Linked DNA regions of Homo sapiens. The protein of the gene in region 2 purifies or fractionates together with the protein of the main gene of each other region. This does not show direct contact. Each region holds a gene or a part of one and is shown on either strand. Other genes may lie near its edges.

Region 1 (9,903 bases), on a different chromosome or scaffold from region 2:
TTTTATACTGTATTCTGTAGGTATTTTTATGTACATTACACTAATGTTATTCACTCTTTGGTGACCTTGACAAAATGGAGCTACAGAGTTTGGTATAAAAAGTTCTGGGCCAGGAAACAGGAAGCCTGAATTCTGATCTCTATCCTGCTGCTACCAACTCTGGACTTCGAGTAGTCATTTAGCCTCTGAGTTCTCCTTCTTCAGTCCAAGTTATTGATAATAATCAAGCCCTTTATCATTTAGGGTCTTATTTTGCCATGGCTTTTGCTTAGTTTTGTACAGTGTATATGTCAACATGTAAAAGCCATTTCATGGTATTAAGTACTGCCCAATTTAAGTCCAAACGCAGTAGAACTGAAAACTCCGCATTGGTTGCTTTGAAATGGTCTCTCTGATGATACTGGAGTGGCAGAGTCGTTGGAGTCCAGTCTGATGCAACGAATCTCATAAAATAAATAGTCCTATAGTCCCGGCTACTCAGGGTGCTGAGGCAGGAGAGGATTGCTTGAGTCCAGAAATTTGAGACCAACCTGGGCAACATAGCAAGACCTCATCTCTTAAAAAAAAAATGGCACCAAGTAAACATTAGCTCTTTATATGGCACCAAGTAAACATTAGCTTTATAAGCCCAGTGTGAGCTAGTTAGAATTTCAGATCCTTTTCCTGCCTGCCGAAGTGAAAACTCTGCTTGGAATCTTATGTTTTATGTGCAGTATGTTCAGATTTTCTAGCTGGGATTGTCTGACGTCTAACTTGACTTTTACTCCTCTTAGTCCTCCCAAACCGAAGGACCCTGTATCTGCAGCTGTGCCAGCACCAGGGAGAAACAACAGTCAGATAGCATCTGGCCAAAATCAGCCCCAGGCAGCTGCTGGCTCCCACCAGCTCTCCATGGGCCAACCTCACAATGCTGCAGGGCCCAGCCCGCATACACTGCGCCGAGGTAAGCAGCCACCGTCCTCCTTGCCCTCAGGGAAGCCTGTGCAGACCTCCTTAAGTTAGTGCAAGGATTCAGATGGTGAGGTTTGTGGCCAGATCTTTTCTATGTCTGTTGTAAAATCCCAAGCAGAAAATTCAGTCATTCAAGAGAAAAGTCATTAAAGAAAAAGGAAAAAATAGAGAACAGAAAAGCAGACATTTAGTTTTTCCTTAGGCGTGACAAAGCTTAACAAACAGTCAGTTCTGCAGAAATGCTCCCAGTTTTCCTGGTGTCCCAAGCCCTCGCTCTGTTTGGAGACTACCACAGCCTCTGTACTTCTCAGCTTTGTGGGTCTGGGAGGCACTTTTGCTTCGGAATTGGGGTGAAGGCTTTCTAGGTCCTGATTAACAGAATCTGAACTGCTCCCACCTGTCTTCCCTGCAGTCCTCCACCCAGCAGCCAGGGGAATTGCTTTAAAACTCCAAGCAGATCATGTCGTCTCTTGGTTAAACTCTTCAGTGGCTTCCATGCGAACTTCTCACCCTGGGTTCTCTGTGCTTTGGTGGGGCCTACCTCTGAGCCCAGAGCTTACACTCCCTCCTCTCAACACACTCCACTCTTGGTTCCTTGAATGAACTAAGTTCATCCCCTCCTTAGGGCTTCCAGAACATTCTGTCCCATATCTTCACATGGTTTCTTCTTACCATTCAGGTCTCACCTCAAAAATCACTTCTTCCAGCTGGGCGTGGTGGCTCACACCTATAATCCCAGCACTTTGGGAGGCTGAGGCAGGAAGATCGCTTGAGGCCAGGAGTTGGAGACCAATCTGGTCAACATAGTGAGAGCCCACCTCTACAAAAAAAATTTTAAAAATTATCTGGGTGTGGTGACACACACCTATAGTCCCAGCTACTCAGGAGGCTGAGGCAGGAGGATCACTTGAGCCCAGGAGGTCGAGCCTGCAGTGAGCTATGATTGCACCACCGCACTCCAGCCTGGACAACAGAGTGAGACCCCATCTCTAAAATAAAAAAGAGAGGCCAGGCGCAGTGGCTCACACCAGTAATCCCAGCACTTTGGGAGGCCGGGGTGGGTGGATCACTTGAGCCAGGAGTTCAAGCCTGGCCAACATGGTGAAACCCCATCTCTACTAAAAATACAAAAATTAGCCGGGCATGGTGCTTGCACGCCTGTGGTCCCAGCTACTCAAGAGGCTGAGGCAGGAGAATTGCTTGAACCTGGGAGGCAGAGGTTGCAGTGAGCCAAGATTGTGCCACTGCACCCCAGCCTGGCCAACAGAGCAAGACTCTGTCCCGAAAAAAGAAAAAAAAATGGATTAAATTCACTGTGTCTGTCTATAGAAGCATGGTCTTTACAAAGCACTACACAAATGTTAGTGGAATTTCTACAAATCATAGGCAGGGAGGCAAATCCGAGTCCACTGCTTGGTTGCAGACCCCCACTTTATTCTTCTTCAGGCTGCCTCTCTGGGCCCTGTCATCTTATCAGGATCTCAGCTGATCCTTGAGGGAAGTTAGTCTTCTGGACCTAGATTCCAGGTGTGACTCTGGTTTTGGATTAAGAAGACTCTTTTCCTTATAGCCGCATTCAGAGTCTTTCATGCTTCCCGAAATCACAGCTCCCAGGCTTCTTCGCAGGATGGGTTTGATTCTTTTTTCCTTCCCCACCCCCTGCGCCTCTGAGGTGGTCTCAGACAAGGCCTCCATTTCTCCCAGCCCCCTCCCCCTGACACTTTGCTCCCACGCTCCCTCTCCCCATCCTCTTCACACCCTTAAATTTCAGGAACGAGCTTTTATTCAGTATGACTTTACAATTAGTATTGCTTAGAACAGAAAACTAGACTTTTTTTTTAAATGCCGATGGCAGTCTGGAGTACAGCTAATGTAAGCTGGTTGGTGGTTTCTGAGTTCCAGGGTTGAAAGTTCCAGACCAGTGTAGCAGAGTAGACTTTACCCTTTTTTCTTTTTTTTTTTCCTTTCTTATGTTTTTTAGAGGCAGGGTCTCGTTTTCTCACCCATGCTGGAATGCAGTGGCGTGATAATAGCTCACTGCATCCTCCAGCCACTGGACTCAAGTGATCCTCCCACTTTGGCCTCTCAAAGTGCTGGTACTACAGGCACATGCCACCATGCCTGGCTGCTTTATTTTTTTGTAGAGTCGGGGTCTCACTGTGTTGCCCAGGCTGGTCTTGAGTGATCTTCCTGCCTCAGCCAGTCAGAGTGCTGGGAATACAGGCATGAGCCACCGAGACTTTACCCTTTTCAATCCTGAATTCTGGGCCCTGTAAACAGGCAGCCGGGGAATAGGGGAAGGAGGAAGAGGAAAAAGCATTCAGGGAGTCCACATGTCATGGGCAGGAGTCTCAGTTCTGCCCCTTACTAGCTGTGTGACCTATTACCAAACACTGGCCCTCTTCAAGCCTCAGTTTTCTTCTCTGTGAAAATGGGGATAACAGAGCTTGCCCTGCAATGAGCTTATGAAACTTGAATGAGATAATTTATATAAATTATAATGTGCATAATTTATATAAAAGGCCTTACTTGGTACTGGTGATAAGAGTGATACATGTTCATTTCTTTCCTTCATTTCCTTCTCCTTCTTTCTTAGAGAACCAGTAGGATCTTAGCAGAGTTTGAAAAAGGCTAAAATCTCTCCTTTCCCCCTACCCCTCCCAGCCCAAAACCAGAGCCCCAGATCTGTTGTTTTCCCTCCTGCCCTCATCAGTCCCAGGTTCCTATCCCTGATCTCAGCTGGTGTAGGGAGGAGAGTGATGTGATTCAGCTCTCTTTAGAGAAATAATTCTAAGGCAACTCTTCCAGATTTATTCATGCTTTTGTCCAGGACATATCTATTAACTCAAATGGTTGCGGAATTGGTAGAAATTCTGTTATTAAGACCAATCAAACCAATCAAACTCTCAAGGAGAAGGTGGCTTGGGATCAGGGGTCATGTTATATCAGGGTGAACTAGTCATGCTTGGTGGTCCCTCCTGGCTGTTCTGCCTCTTTCTGCGTCTTCCCATGGGGCCCTAATGAGGAGGCTGCTAAGTGGGCTGAGGGCAGCACTTCCGTGTCATTGGGGTGGCCTCTGTTAACAGTTTTCTTCTTATTGAACTTTCAAAACGATAGGCCTTTAAAGCCCTTTCAAATGTGCATAATGTACTTAATTTTTAAAATAAACTTGTTTGTTTGGAGTAATTTTGAATTTATAGAAAAGTTGCAAAGATAATGCTGAGAGTTCCCATATGCCCCTTACTCAGTTTCCCCTGTTGTTAATGTGTTACATGACCATGGCACATTTACCCCAGCTCAGAAGTCAACATTGGGCTAGTCCCCCCATCCCCCCCAACTTTTTTTTTTTTTTTGAAATGGTCTCACTCTGTTGCCCAGGCTGGAATTCAGTGGTGTGATCACTGCAGCCTTGGACTTCCCAGGCTCATGGGATCCTCCCACCTCAGCCTCATGAGTAGCTGGGATTACAGGCGCATGCCACCACGCCCGGCTAATTTTTGTAGTTTTTTGTAGAGATGGGGTTTTGCCACGTTGCTCAGGCTGGCCTTGAACTCCTGCACTCAAGTGATCCGCCTGCTTTGGCCTCCCAAAGTGCTGAGATCACAGGCGTGAGCCACTGCACCTTGCGGTTCATTACCATTAACTAGACTCCACATTTTGTTCAGATTTCCCTAGTTTTTCCACTCATGTCCATTTTCTGTCCCAGGATCTCATCCAGGAGCCCACATTATATGTAGTCATCGTATCTTCTTCGTCTCCTGCTGTCTGTGACATGTTCTCCGTCTTTCTGTGCTTTTCTATGGCCTTGATGGTTTTGGAGAGTACTGGTCAGGCATTTTGAAGAAAGGCCTTCAATTTGTGTTTGTCAGATGTTCTTCTGATGGGTTATGGGCTTTGGGGAGGAAGACACAGTGTGGTGCCCTCCTGACCACCTCTCATCAGAGGTACATGATGCTGGTGTACCTTATTACTGGTGATGTTAAATTTGGGCTCCTGGCCAGGGTTGGTTGCTGCCTCACTGTTCCTACTGAAAGGTGTTTTTTCTCTTTTTGTGCAGCTGTTAAAAAACCCGCTCCAGCACCCCCGAAACCGGGCAACCCACCTCCTGGCCACCCCGGGGGCCAGAGTTCTTCAGGAACATCTCAGCATCCACCCAGTCTGTCACCAAAGCCACCCACCCGAAGCCCCTCTCCTCCCACCCAGCACACGGGCCAGCCTCCAGGCCAGCCCTCCGCCCCCTCCCAGCTCTCAGCACCCCGGAGGTACTCCAGCAGCTTGTCTCCAATCCAAGCTCCCAATCACCCACCGCCGCAGCCCCCTACGCAGGCCACGCCACTGATGCACACCAAACCCAATAGCCAGGGCCCTCCCAACCCCATGGCATTGCCCAGTGAGCATGGACTTGAGCAGCCATCTCACACCCCTCCCCAGACTCCAACGCCCCCCAGTACTCCGCCCCTAGGAAAACAGAACCCCAGTCTGCCAGCTCCTCAGACCCTGGCAGGGGGTAACCCTGAAACTGCACAGCCACATGCTGGAACCTTACCGAGACCGAGACCAGTACCAAAGCCAAGGAACCGGCCCAGCGTGCCCCCACCCCCCCAACCTCCTGGTGTCCACTCAGCTGGGGACAGCAGCCTCACCAACACAGCACCAACAGCTTCCAAGATAGTAACAGGTAAGTAGGACATCAATGCCCGTATTTCCTCGTCTGCTCTACATTGCTTTTGTACTACTACATTTTATTTAAGCTTTGATTTATGCCAGGTGTCAGCAAACTACACCCGCAAGCCAAACCAAACCTGTCCTGCAGCCAGTTTTTGTCATTAAAGTTTTATTGGAACACAGCTACACCCATTTGTTAACATATTGTCTGTGGCTGCATTGGTGCTGAAACAGCAGAGCTGGGTAGTCGTGACCAAAGATCCTGTGGCCCACAAAGTTGGAAACATTTACTGCCTGGTCCTTTAAGTTTGCCGACCCCTGACTTATAGTTGCTTGTGTGTTTAAGACCTATGTACGTTTACATTTTTCTCAACATAATGGCTTTTATTCCAGGTGGAAGGTATTTTACAACACGAGCATGAACTTTATTTCTTAGTGAATTCCTCATTAAAATGCTTAAACAGTACTTCTAAGAGTAAAAGTGTTCATATTAAGTACAGAATTTCAGGTATAACTTTAAAAAACATGATTTATGCCAAATTGAATGCTCCAGAAGGGAGATCTCAGGGCACTGTCATGTTCTAATGGCTTGGGAGGGAAGAATCAAGATTTTCCTGTAGACCCAGTGGGAACCTGTTTGGAAGTGGTGGTGATTGTACAGGTTTTAGTGGGCTACCTAATGGCATATTTTTAATAGTCTAGAACATGACCATTTTATTTAACATTTCAAGAATATTTCCATCCCAAATGCTCTAATTTATTATTTAATTTAAGGATGAATATGGGGGTTTCTAGTGTGTTTTTAAAAATGGTAATTAGGGGCCTCAAATAATTTCTTACAGCAGCCTAGTTTAAATTGTTCTAAGTGGAGGCACTTTCGGAAAAGAAGCTGAAATACACCTCTGGGCTTTCCAACCATATTGAGTGACTTTGCAGCTAAAAATGTGCCAAGGTTTCCATTAACCCAAAGGGTGACGGTTAACTGATTCTAACAGCTTTTGATAACTTTTTTCAGGAATATAATACATAATTTGCACATGTTATAAATGGTTAATAACTTTTTTTCTGATGCCATCAGAGCTTTTATTTTGAAAACAACAAAGCCATGTTGGTTTGTTTGTTTTGTTTCCCAATAGATGCCCTTCCTAGTGCCCTCACAGGTGGGGAAGGTTTCCAGGACTAAGGTCTGTAATGGCCCCGAGCAGCTTGCCCCATAGCTCGCCCCACAGCTCCAAATGCTCCTGCTTAGCCGTGTTTTGCATATGTGCTTTTGACCATGTGCTCAGGAGCAGCCGTTTGACCGTGTGCCCTGACAGCCAATAGGCCATCCATTCTGTAGCATATTGACATTTCTTTATTTTTATCAGAAGCACTTTGAGCTGCAGTGCTTCAAATTCGAGGAGTAGATGTCAGTAGATCAAGAGCCTGATTTCAAGCTGCTCTTGAAGAGTATCTTCTTTCTTAGGGGCCAAGCACAGTGGCTCGTGCCTCTAATCCCAGTACTTTGAGTGGCTGAGGCAAGAGGATTGCTTGAGCTCAGGAGTTCGAGACTGCAGTGGGTAGTGATTGTGTCACTGCACACTGCAGTCCAGCCTGCATGACAGAGTGAGACCCTGCCTCTTTTTAAAAAAAAAAAAAAAAAGGAATATCTTCTATCTTTTTGGTGAGCCTCTTAGCAGCAGTCTACTCTTCCCAGTGTGATTTACCTGTCACTGATGGGCTCACCAGCATCCAACCAAAGAGGACCCAGGTGCAGTCAGCACGGGAGGAAATTGTGTCCTTTGTGTCTTGAGCTTTAATTTTAAATTTTTGTATTTTAAGTGCAAGTTAACTGCATGGAGCTTCTTAATTTGATATTTTAAATTCTCAAGACCAAAAAATTAAAAAAAATCTTCCGCCAAATACCCTACACTGAATTATTTTAAATTCCTTTGCATCCTAGCATGCTTACGTTTTGCTTTATTAAACCATATGAGCTTTTTAAAAGGCACTGTGAGCTCATCTAAGTCTGCCGCTGGGTCTACATGTGGACAGCATAAGGCCCTCATCATATGTACAGCTGCTTTAATCAGCTGGCCTGAGCCTTAGGCCTACTGTGGGCCCCTTAGCCAGAGTGCTCACAGCTTAGGTCTGAGTAAGACTTTCTGTAGGAACCGTAAGTGGAAAACCAGAGTGTAGCCTTCAAAACAGGGAGGAGGCCCGGGTGCGATTCCACAATTTCATGCTTGTGACACACCAAAATGTTATTATCAGATATTTCCTTTTATTTAAATGAAAGATTGCAAACCAGAATTATGCCTATTTTTTAATACCATTGTTACCCGGGGTGTATTTATTCCACAAGTTTAGTTTACTGATCTGCTACAACACTGTAATATACTGCCTGTAATTATTAGATAAGTGAAATTTTACATTAAAAATGTGTTTCCCGAAGATACTAGCTATTTAAAAACCGGTCTATGCTATGAATTCTCCTAACTCAAGAAATTCCAGGTTACCAGAGTTATCTTTGTATTACAGAATTAACCTGTACTATCTTAAAATCCCCTGGCCTCCCACTGAAAGTACACAGAAGGCCAACATTTAGAATTTTTTAATCTGCTAGTATTGATCATACTGCTATTAACCATTCTTGGATGTAGCCATTGGGTTTTTCAAGGAGGAAAAAATATATAACTTCCTTGGACAGGATGGTCCTTTATTATGACATAATGTTTTCACTTAGAAAACTTTAGATGGACAAATTCCTGAAAACAGGTTATTCCTTTAGAATTGGATTAAGTTAGAGTTTTAAAGAGTTGGGTTAAGGCTAATGGGATTAAGATAAACTCTTGGGGGGAGATTATTGCTGCCAAGCAGGTTTGGCAGCCAACTTCTCACAGCTCAGCACCAGCACTGGAGGATGCCGGCATTCTGGCATCATTTTGAGTCTCCTGTTAATTGTGACTCTAGAGAGCAGTAAGAGTTTTAATTCCCATGTAAAAGAGTTTACATCTTGCTATTTTTGAAGTAATAGATTTTAGCAAAGAGTATTCTAATTTAAACATTTTATTAAATAATTTAGATGTATGACCTGCCATATTCAGTAAGAACTGAGATTGGAATATTTAATGGTAAGGAAAAGGCACCTGATTGGCCAATGCATTTTTGCTACTTGATGATCATATTTGTGCACTCATGCCTGTTACTAACTGGCCACCCTAACCCTGCCTGCTTGCATCCCTACTAATAGTGCATGCACTGAAGGAGGACTGGCTTTGTTGATGCTTGCTGCAATGATTCGGAATACTAAGTGTGTACCCAGATGTGGAACAGGTGGTCACAGGGCTGTCCTTGTTACTTCTTTAATTTCCATTCTTTTCCATATCAGGCAAGCTTGAGGTATAGTAGGAAGAACACACATTATGGAGTCAGACCTGACTGAGTTAGAATTTCAGCTCTTGGTATAACATAGGCTAGGCACAACCTGGCTGATCTGTAAAGTGGTGACATCTGTCTAAATTGTTGAAGATGAAATAAGAGAAAGTCCAAGATTATTCTGTTAGCCAGTTACAGTTCTTAATATACGCGCAATCTCGGCTCACTGCAAGCTCCGCCTCCCAGGTTCAAGCAATTCTCCTGCCTCAGCCTCCTGAGTACCTGGGATTATAGGCGCCTGCCACCACATCTGGCTATTTTTTTTATTTTTAGTAGAGACGGGGCTTCACCATGTTGGCCAGGCTGGTCTCGAACTCCTGACCTTAGGTGATCCGGCCTCCTCAGCCTCCCAAAGTGCTGGGATTATAGGTGTGAGCCATTGTGCCTGGCCTGCTATTTATCATTTTTATCTAGAAGAAAATAGTTTTAATCAGATTTCTATGTTAGATTCACATATCAGGGTTTTAAAAACTCATACGCCCGGACCCGGCCTTCTAGGACCCAAACACAGGAGACTGGGGGTGGAACCCAGGTATCCATATTTTGATTCTGATGCACCACTTGGTTTTTTGAATCTCACTTCTTTCATGGGTTAAAAAGACAATGCTCTGCAGAAGGAGATAACATATACATTCATATAATTTAGTGAGCCTGAGACTGTCTGTGAGGCGTTAGTCCACTGTACCACAGATAGACCAAATCACTCACAAAGTAGCCATAAGCCTGGACACTTTGCTGGCTAATTTCATAGTGTTTGCTTTTTAAACTCTCACCCTTCTTATGTCATGTAAGTAATGCCTTTTTAAAAATAAGCATGAGCTGGGGCACGGTGGCTCACGCCTGTAATCCCAGCACTTTGGGAGGCTGAGG
Region 2 (9,903 bases):
GACGGGGCTCCCAGCCTCTCCCCCTCTCATCGCGGAAATAGAGCACCTGCCAGGGAGAGGTCGGTCCCTTCCACCTTAGTAATCGGCCCACAGGGCCTAGGTGTCCCAGGAGCCCAGGCGCTGCAGCCCTAGGGGACAAAGGGGAGGAGGAGGCGAAAGAAGTCGGGAATGGTACGAATCCCTTGCAAACAAAAGGGAGGGGGCAGAATACCAAGCCGGTCGCGGCTGTTCTCAGAGGTGGACAGGTTGGGTGGAGAAATGGGTGTCGGGGGAGGGGAAGATTTAGAAAATTCCTCTAGGGCAAGGGATTAGGGAGCTGCTTGGGGGCGCAGCAGCCAGCAGGAAGGGGGCTGAGGCAGGACAGAGGCCCTGGGGTGAGAAGGGGGCACAGCTCGCTGTGGGGGAGAGGTGATGGCTAAGAGGTGAAGGCCAGACTGGGCCCAGTGTAGGGTGAGGGGGCGCTGAGCCCCGCGCGGCGCTCCGAGGGGCCCTGAGGAGGGTCTCAGAAGGAGCCTGGGGGCACGCAACGAAGGCATTCGAGGGAGAGGGCAGAATTGGGGCACGCAGTGTTGGAAAAGAGGCTGAGAACAGAGCCGTAGAGAGGTTAGGGGGGACTGCGAGGGGGCCTGACCCCCGTCCGCCCCACCTCACCTGGCGCCGGGTCGGAGTCCAGATCTAGTGCTGAGAAAGCGCCAGCTCCGGCCAGTCCCTCCGTCCCGCGCGGGAGACCACGGACACAAAGCGGGGCGCGCGGGAGGAGGGGAGGAGAGAGGAGGGGGAAGGAGGGAGGAGGAGGAGACGCCTGAGGCGCGCGATGGGGGGAAGGAGGGGCGCCTGCCGCCCTCCTCCTGGGTCAGGGGGCGGGGCATGCGGCTGGAGGCCGCCCTCAGCCGGCCAATGGCCACTCCACTGGCCCGCAGGCTAGGGCGCGCCTTCCCGCGGCTCACCTCGGCACCTGGGCCTCGGTTGGCCCCAGCCAATCAAACGCCTTTATTTGCATGACCAGCCCCGCCCATTCGCCCCAGCCAAGGACTGCTCACTGAGAATACAAAGAAGGCCCCCCGGAGGGGAGGGAGTCGACTCCAGTTGGCCTATCCCAAGGGCATAGTATCACCTTTTCAGCGCGTTTATGGGTCTTTCACGGTCATCTTGATGAGGGGAGGGGAGTGGGGGTCACAGAGGTTTGGCCCAAGATCTCTTAAGAGGTCGGATCTCTTCTACCTGAGGTCCTTCTAACCAAGAGCTGCTCTCCTCTTCCAGGGCACACAGTTCCCAGTCTTCTCCTGTGGGCCCTCCGCCCCCTCCCCTTTTTCCAGTCGCCCTAATCTTTGGATGCTGCTTCCAGTAGGCTGCTGCCCACTACTGGCCTTCTCCTGCACTGCAGCCCACATCAGCAGGCTCTGAGCACAGCCTTAATTGATGCTTTCAAGCCGCCCAAACCAACCCCTACCCAGCAGGAAAAGGAGAGAGGAAGAGGTTACTGCTCTAGGTAGAAGGGACCTGGTCAAGTGGCTTTGTTACCTAGGATGGCAAAAAGCCAACACATAATATAAGTCTAACTCCCCCACATCATCTCTTCCCACCTTCCCTTCTCCTACCTTCAGGTCTGTACTGGGCCACAATGGTGACTGACTGGCCGGCCCGTTTCAGAGCAGCTGCAGCCTGCTCATGAGTTGCATTCCTCAGATTCACTCCATTCACCTGTCCAAAGAGAGAAGCTGTGAGCCACCCCAAAAGCAAGAAAGAGGGTCCTCTGCATTAGCAGTTAGGAGAGGGAGATGGGTACCCCACCCCTAAGCCTGTTTAGATGCCTTTCCCAATATTCCAACCTTGCCCCTAAAACAAGGCCTAAAGGATACGACATCTCTAGTGTAACAATTATCTTCATAAAGGTCAAATGCCAATCAGGGTTAAGATCCAATAGGCATTCATTTCCTCTTCAAAGATAAGTCTAGTCCCGGTCCCTGTCACTAAGGATGTCTATAAAAACAAGAGAAGTTTTCTCCAGTCCTTAGCCCTCCCTTCATCTCAAGAAGCATTCCTCGGAGGAAGTAAGGTCTCTCGCTCTCCATTTTAGACTGGCACAGTTCCCATCCTCCCACCTCTCCTTTGTCTCCTCACCGATAAGATCCGGTCTCCCCTGCGCAGCTCCCCACTCAGGTCAGCTGGGCCTCCTGCCAGGATGAAGGAGACAAAAATGCCTTCTCCATCCTCTCCTCCTACGATGTTGAAGCCCAGGCCTGTGGAGCCTTTGTGCAGGATGATCTTGCGAGGCTCTCTGGTGGGAAAGGAGTGGAGGAGTCAGGACTAGGTAGATATGGACTGTTGTCCTTTGAGGGCCAGCCTGGAACAAGGTCCATACTTGCTGTAGGGAGTAAGGACGTGGTTCCCTATGTATGATACCCTGAGCCTCCCTTTGTCTCCTGAAACCTGCTTGGCTGCTGTTCTGTCAGGTGCCAAGTTTCAGTTCCTCTTCCCTCCCTTCTTCCCGAGGGCTTGCAGTCAACTTCCCAGTGGACAGTCCCCTACTCTCTCGGGTGAACAAATCCCTACCCTGAACTCCAGAGACCAAATCTCAGGCCCACTCACTGGTCCTCTTCCTTCCCAGATTCTCCTATCCTACCAACCCGTGTGATGGACCCTGGACCACAAGAAGAGGAAGCAGTTAGGGGCAGTGGAGTCACCCTGGGGTTGACTGCACTCATCATCCACAGGATGTGCACACTTACTTCACAGACACTCTTCTGCAGTCTCAAAATCTCACCCATCAACTATGACCCCTCCTACCTGCTGCCCCAACAACATATTTAATCAGCAGCTAACACTATGTAGCCCCAGGGGGTTGCAGCGCCTGGGTTCTTAGGGGGATCCCAGGTCCCCAAAAGGAGTTTAGAATCCAAACTGAAGAGAGCAGACAAGCACATGAGAAATGCGAATAAAACTAACCACATCTAAGGAAGCCCTCTGTAAAAGGTCACAGTGTCATCCGCCCAACTCCCAGGGCACGTTCCCGGCCCACCGCCTTCACTTGTTACAAGCATCTTTCCTCGGAGGAGCCCAAAGCCCCACGCAAGACTCTTCCTTTCTTGCTCCCAGTCTCAGGGGCGAGACTCCCTCCCTGAGTCCCGGATGCTCTTGCTCCTAGCCCTCCACTCCTACCTGGCATCCCCTCCGGGCCGCAGGGAGCGGAGCGGCCAGGCCCACCTCTGCGAAGCCCTCCTCCAGGCCGAAGCGGAGGCGGAGCCCAAGCCCATGGCCAAGCCGGAGCCCGAGAACTTGCGGGCCCTCTCCATAGCTCCTCTCTCTCTCCCCTGGCTGCCTACCCTTCCGGCTCCACTGCTGCCTGCCCGCCAGCCTCTCGGGCCCCACCCTGCAAACCTGTCCCCCGGAACCCCAGCCGGCCCGACCAGTTCCAGGCCCCGCGCAGCCGCTGCCGCCGCCGCTGCCGCCAGCGGGGCGGGGCCGTTGCCGGCGAGGCCACCGGGCCGGTCAGAGTCCCGCCAGCCCCACCGGCTGAACTGCTTTCTTCTCTAATTTGAAATGGTTGCAGCAGAGCGGGCTGCAACTATCTCAGGGCAGGAAACTCCGCTGCCCTCGCCTCCTCAGCCCCCTAAACGCTCCACCCCATCCTTTCTTTATCTGCACTTTTGGACCGGGGCCACTCACTCGGCACTCCCCCTGATGGTAGAGCTTGTCCCTGCAGCCACTTCTGTCCCTCTCTAGGTCCCCAAGGCCTGAGAGAGGGCCTCGGACCCCAAAGCCGGGAGTGATGAGGGCCTTATCCTCTTCTTTGCCATACTACAAGGAGCCTGTGGCCGGCCAGAAACGGATTCCTCCCCTCCCCAATTTCTGGGTAGATTGAATGGGATGTTGGGGGCGGGGTCTTACCTGGTGAAGTCCTCCTCAGCCAGCATGTGCCTGGGAATAGGAGAGTAGCGGGTGGGGGGAACCTGAGGAGGAGCAGGGTAGCTGACCTTGCTCTCCACAGCCCCGAGATAACCCAGGCTGGAATTATGGCTTATGTGGTTGTCAGCCAAGGCAGTAAAAGCTGGAATCAAGAAAGGGAGAGAAAAGTTCAGAGACTGGTCCAGGGAGGTACCCCAAACTCCTCAAGGACTTTCCCCCACACCCCACTTCAGATGCAAAAGAGACCAAGGGATGCTGATTCCTCAGGCCGCACCTCCCCACTCCATCCACCCGCCACCCAGGGTTCCTCCTCCGCAGTCCCTTTCTAAATCCTTGGCTCACTCCTGTGAGTCTTAGAAAGAGCTGAAGTCAAGGCAGTCTACAAAGAAAGGCATGACTAGAGGTGTGACTAATAATAATCCCTCACATCTCTATAGCCTAATACAGTTTTCCAAGGGTTTTCTCATCCATGATCTCATTTGATCCTTGCAGCAGTCCTATGAGGAAGGCAGCACATACATCATTAGCTCCCTTTTGCCAAAGAGGAAACAAAAAACAGGTGAAAGGGACTTGTCTAAGGGCACCCAGCTCTAAGGGACAGAGCTGGGGGCCAGGCACGGTGGCTCAAGCCTGTAATCCCAGCACTTTGGGAGGCCGAGGTGGGTGGATCACGAGGTCAGGAGATCGAGACCATCCTTGCCAACATGGAGAAACCCCGTCTCTACTAAAAATACAAAAAATTAGCCAGGCATGGTGGCAGGCACCTGTAATCCCAGCTACTCGGGAGGCTGAGGCAGGAGAATTGCTTGAACCCAGGAGGTGGAGTTCGCAGTGAGCTGACATCGTGCCACTGCACTCCAGCCTGGCGACAGAGCAAGACTCCGTCTCAAACAAACAAACAAAAAAACAAAGACAGAACTGGGATCTGGACTCAGTTCTGTGCACTATCCTCTGCGGCTTCTCTCTCTCCTCTTTTTAAAATTCACTCTCCATAGAAATTGTCAAAAATTGCCAATGCTGACTCTATGGCAAGTCTTCACGATGGGGTACTGAGCAAAGTTTTCAATTAGCAATAATGGCGCCTCAGATAAACCTTATTGGCTGCTACAGTGCCACCACTGAGCAAAGCTGCTTGCCCTCTCTTAACAAAGGGTATGAACTTCTTCCCCTCCAGAAACCAGGGGACAGAGCTTTAGACCAGGGACAGGGGCTGATGAGTACGTACTGCTGGCGTAGTCAGGGGGAGCGTACATGTCGTTGAGGTGGAGGCTGCCTGGCTTGGCCACCTTCAAATACACCATATCAGATGTGTTCTTCAGTGAGGCCACAGCTTCCTCGTGCCTCACATCCTGCAGATTGGTGTTGTTCACCTAGAAGAGGAGAGGCCTCAGGCTGGGACTTGGAAGAAGGAGAGGCTTCTCCAGGGAACTCGAGGGATGCCTTTTCAGTGAAATTCAACAGCATGCTAACAAAGGCCCAAGTATAGTGCTGTGAGGAGCAGAGGCAGGAGGTAGGGGATAGGGCAAGACCCTGGCCACAGAAAGAATTAGGGCCTTTGTATCTGGGCAAACACAACACAGATGATAACTCTTGAAATTCCCCCATGATGCCTCATCCCTGAGTGAGGTTTAGGCGGAGTAAGGGGTACTGGAGCTCCTCCTCCCTACCCTACCATTTGGGCATCCCCATGAAGTCTGTCTCACCGCCAGCAGCCGGTCCCCAATCTGTAGGCGTCCATCCTTCTGAGCAGCACCCCCCTCAATGATCTTGGTGATGTAGATGCTGTTGTCTCCTGGGATGTGCTGGTTGCCAATACCCCCAGCAATGCTGAAACCCAGGCCTGAGCGGGAGCCAGCAGGAGGTGGGAGAGGGCCACAAGGAGAGGTTAAAGTGTTGTCGATCCCAAATCCAAACCCCCTCCCCCAGCCAACCCACTGGCCCCACAGGAGCTCCCCCCGGGGGATCCAAACGCTAAGCTGCCATCCTGAGATGAGTAAGGGTGAGGCCTGAGGTCAAAAAAGTAGGCTGTGAGTTGGAACAGGGGGAGTCAGGCAAGGAGTAAGGCCATTCCCTTCCAATTCCCTATGGGGCAAGATGGGATCTGGGGCCTAAGGCTCTGGCTGGAGCACAGGAACCTGGAGGGCCGCACCTTTGGGCCCTTTGAGCAGGTTGACCTCCATGATGGTCTCGGGTGGAGGCTGTCGCCTCCGCACCACCAATCGCACCACAGGGCCTGCCTCCTTCAGCGCCTCCACCGCCCGGCTGTGTACCACCTCCGACACGTCCACCTCATTCACCCGCAGCACACAGTCATTCACCCTGTGGGGGAAGCCCGAGAGGCATGACACTGTGCCCCTACCCCTCCACCCCCTCTCCTGCTTCCTCCCACTTCTCTGTCCTCCCCTCCTCTGCCCTCCCACCCCGCCCTCAGATCTAATGGAAGGGTCATCCTGCCAGGCAGGCTTTCCTCCCCTCATCTCGATCCTGTCCCTGCCACCCACAACCCTGCTTCCAGGCCATCTCACCCCAGCCTCCCATCCATGGCAGCTGCTCCACCAGGGATAATCTTGGTAATAAAGATGCCAGGGTCATCAGGGACATGGGGATTGTCGATGCCACCTGCGATACTGAAGCCCAGGCCAGAGTTGCCCTGCAGAAGTGGGTGGAAAGGCACAGTCTGTTCACTCTGAGGGCACAAAGGAGAGTTCTGGGTACCTCATCTCCCCTTATATCCCAGAGCTAGTTCTCCAGGCCTCAGAAGGGGCCATGGCAGGCTGGGCACATTTGTCAGACACCCAGCCTCTGCTGATCATTTTGGGAAACCCATCCCCTCCCCAATTCCCCAGGCCTCAGTGAGCAAGGTCAATTAATATTTGTTAGTGGGTTGATTGATTGATGCAGTGAAGCAGCCTCTGAGGGCCGCTGTTTCACCATCCTCTAAATGCAGGTCCCCCCATGGGTCTTGAAACCATGATTCAGGGGTCTCCCTTATCCTGGCTCCAACCCTCTCCTTCCCTTTCCGCTTTTCCCCACTGGCAGACTCACCCTCTCAAGTACGATTTCCTCATATTTGAACATGCCATCACTGCCATTCACCTAGGGGGAGACACAGGCAGTTCCCTTAGTGCCCCCTGCCCTTCCAGCCATCTGCCCCTTAGTCAACCTGCCTCCTCCCCTACTCCCACAGAGTAGAAGAGCCCAAGTGCACCCCAGGTCACCTCTTGGCCACAGATGAGGACAGGCTGACCTGGAAGAGGCCGCTCCTCACTCACCCCACCAATCCCTGCTTTGCTTCCAACCATATCAGCCCAAACCAAGCTGCTCATTTAGCCCAGATCAATTGTCTGAGACTGAGCCAGCCAGTGGTGCACTCACCGAGAGGCTGTGCTTCAGTGTCTCAGGGTTCACTAGGAGGGGTGCAGGCCTGGCCTAAGGGGGATGGCAGAGATGGAGCATGGCAGGCAAACCATGCCACACCCAGTGTCCATAGGGGATACCCAGTGGCCTAGACAGATAACCCTTCCCCTTCTGAACCACAGTTCTCCCTGACTGGGGGATCATAGACTCCCACTGTGTCCGAACTGGAAGGACAGCAGACATCATCTTGTCCTATCCCCTTTATGTGACAGTAGGTGACACGGAGGCCCAGAGAAGACATGGGATGTGCCTAAGGGCACACTGGGAATTAGTGACAGAGCAATAGGATATCCAGGTGTTCTTTTGATTACAGTAAGCTCTTAAGGCCACTGATGTTTTGGTCACTCATCCCCGTACCCCAGCAGAGCTCATGGGAAAAAGGACAGTTGCCCCACTTTGGAGCACCTCGTGAGTCTTCACTCTATACCTCTTTCTTGGACTCCAGGAACCCAATTCCTCAAATAGGCAGAAGGAGTCAAAGTCCTAATCCATTTTCTACCAAAGGATTTTTGATTCTGAGCCCTTTGTTTTTCCCAGCAGAAAGGGCGAGGGTGGGATCTGGTCAGGAGTCAGAGACAAAGCCACGGGTGGGACTGGAGCAGGGTAGACAAGATTCCCCATGAGGGAGAAGTTGGTGACCCACAGGCTGATTGGCAGCAGAGTCCATGGTTTTCAATATGTAGTAGCCATGCAAGAAGAGGCAAGGGAAGGGGTCAGAAACACAGGGGTGATTTGGCCAACCCACAGAGATGGCCTCCCAGACAGGACATGTGTGTATCTATTTGTCAAGTGAAAATGTGATTCTGGACATACAAGCAGCACCTGCCTGCTGGCTCCCACTTTCACCTCCAAGAATGGAGAAGCCCTCTTGCCTGTCTCCCCAGGTACCCTGGCACCCCTCCCCCACCTTTCTCTGGCTATGTTGTCCCTTCCCTGACCTCTAGCCTCCTCCTCAGAAGTGGGGAGCTGGAAACCAGGGTGGGGGCTCCTCCACATGTCCTGCTGTGCTTCCCCCGTCCCACCTCCACCCCACACAGCTTTGGCTTCAAGAAGCAGAGAGGAGGAGAGGGAGAGAGGACTAGCTCATCATGCCTCCACCATTTCTGGGCTGGCTCTGCAGCTGTGGGAGTTGGTGGGAGGACTCCAGCTACAGCCTTACCCTGGTCTGTGACCCCAGGAAGAAGAACTGAAGGCTCCTTAGAGACCCGAAACCAACACAGCTGCCTTAAGTACCATGCAACAGACACATAAGCAAAGGGACACCCATGTGGCTCTTGTGTGCATTTGGTGTACCATGTGTGCCCACATGTGACAAGCCATGCCTCAAGCCCAGCCCCAGTGGTACCCAGAGGCTTCCCGTTCCCAGTGGTCCACGCTCTAGCCCCCACCCCTACTCAAGGACCTTGTTCTCAGGGCCAGGAGCCATCCAGGGATCAGCCCTGGCAAAGAAACCTTGGCCAACTGGCCCAGCCTGGGATTGCCACCTGTCTCCCAGCCGGGCAGGACAAGCATAAGAGGGTGTTTGCGAGAGAAAGGCCTCCAGGACAGAGAGGGGGCAAAGGAGAGAGAGGGACTCGCTGGAAAGGGCAAGAGGCCAAGGCAAGGGATGTGGGAAAGCAGTAAGTGTGGACAGACAGAAGGCCAGAACTGAGGGCTCTTCTCCCCAGGAAGTCCCCACCTTTGCCTCTGAGTGAGAGCACATCCTATCCCCAGAGGACAGAGGCAGCCAGAACGGTCACCAGCTTGGGGAAGTCATCACCTGCCCTCGACAGCAAAGCCTCCTCTTCCTCTCTCCCCACCCTAGGAGCTGCAGAGCCGGATAACCAGACAGGCCCTCCGCCTTGCGTGCCAGGGACCTGGCTCTGCCAGCCCAGCCTCCATTTTGCTGCTTCTCCCACAGATGCTCCTTCCATTTTCTAAGCTGGCAGTTTAGGCTGGGAGTGGAAGCCGGAGTTGTGCCCAGCACCCAGGGGCTCCCAAGCTGTGCCAAGTCAGGGCTGGGGGGCTAAGCCCTCTCACATCTGGAGGTACCCAAGGGGGACATGCCCCACTGGGGCCAGTCTCTGCACCAGGGCAGCTGCCCCTTGCCGGCTCCAGGCACCATGCCTGCTCTAGAGCGAGGAGGCTTGCTTCAGTTCCTTCAAATCTCCCCCCGCCCCCCGCCACCCCACCCCGGCACACACACTACAGAGCTGCTTGGACAAAAGAGTCCGTCCTTCTCAGCAGCCTCTCAGCCTTGCTTGGGACATGTCTCTCGCCTCCTTCCTCTCCCCTCCCTTGCCTGTCAAGCGCCTCTCACCAGAGACAACACATACAAACACACACTCACACACACACACCAGGCACACGCGTGCACACTCTTGCAGCCACATGCTCACACACATATACATGTAGCCACACACACAAACACAGCCATCCCTGCAGCCTCCTCTACAGAGACCTCTCCACATTCAGAGTGACATCTCCACACATCCATGTGCACATTCACACACAAAGGGACTGGGACGGAGAGGGACTCATGGCATCAAGGGATGAAGCTCAGCGAGCCGGGCACATGGGCTCCTCCACACGGATTCACGG

The links.
Region 1: the proteins of DLG3 (region 2) and ARHGAP17 purify together in Homo sapiens (co-immunoprecipitation; 2 studies listed by BioGRID and IntAct, with this or other methods). This does not show direct contact.

The regions. Positions count from the first base shown.
Region 1 is NC_000016.10:24,926,510-24,936,412, reverse strand, and holds part of ARHGAP17 (rho GTPase-activating protein 17), read left to right. Parts: intron 1-773; coding exon 774-943; intron 944-5,008; coding exon 5,009-5,629; intron 5,630-6,752; coding exon of another isoform or gene 6,753-6,799; exon of another isoform or gene 6,800-6,800; intron 6,801-8,680; coding exon of another isoform or gene 8,681-8,688; exon of another isoform or gene 8,689-8,729; intron 8,730-9,903. UniProt on the Homo sapiens protein: Rho GTPase-activating protein involved in the maintenance of tight junction by regulating the activity of CDC42, thereby playing a central role in apical polarity of epithelial cells.
Region 2 is NC_000023.11:70,446,012-70,455,914, reverse strand, and holds part of DLG3 (disks large homolog 3), read right to left. Parts: intron 7,003-9,903; coding exon 6,952-7,002; intron 6,557-6,951; coding exon 6,432-6,556; intron 6,226-6,431; coding exon 6,056-6,225; intron 5,747-6,055; coding exon 5,610-5,746; intron 5,277-5,609; coding exon 5,132-5,276; intron 4,049-5,131; coding exon 3,889-4,048; intron 3,624-3,888; exon of another isoform or gene 3,294-3,623; coding exon of another isoform or gene 3,160-3,293; intron 2,960-3,159; exon of another isoform or gene 2,609-2,959; intron 2,279-2,608; coding exon 2,122-2,278; intron 1,702-2,121; coding exon 1,599-1,701; intron 739-1,598; exon of another isoform or gene 652-738; intron 172-651; exon of another isoform or gene 1-171. UniProt on the Homo sapiens protein: Required for learning most likely through its role in synaptic plasticity following NMDA receptor signaling.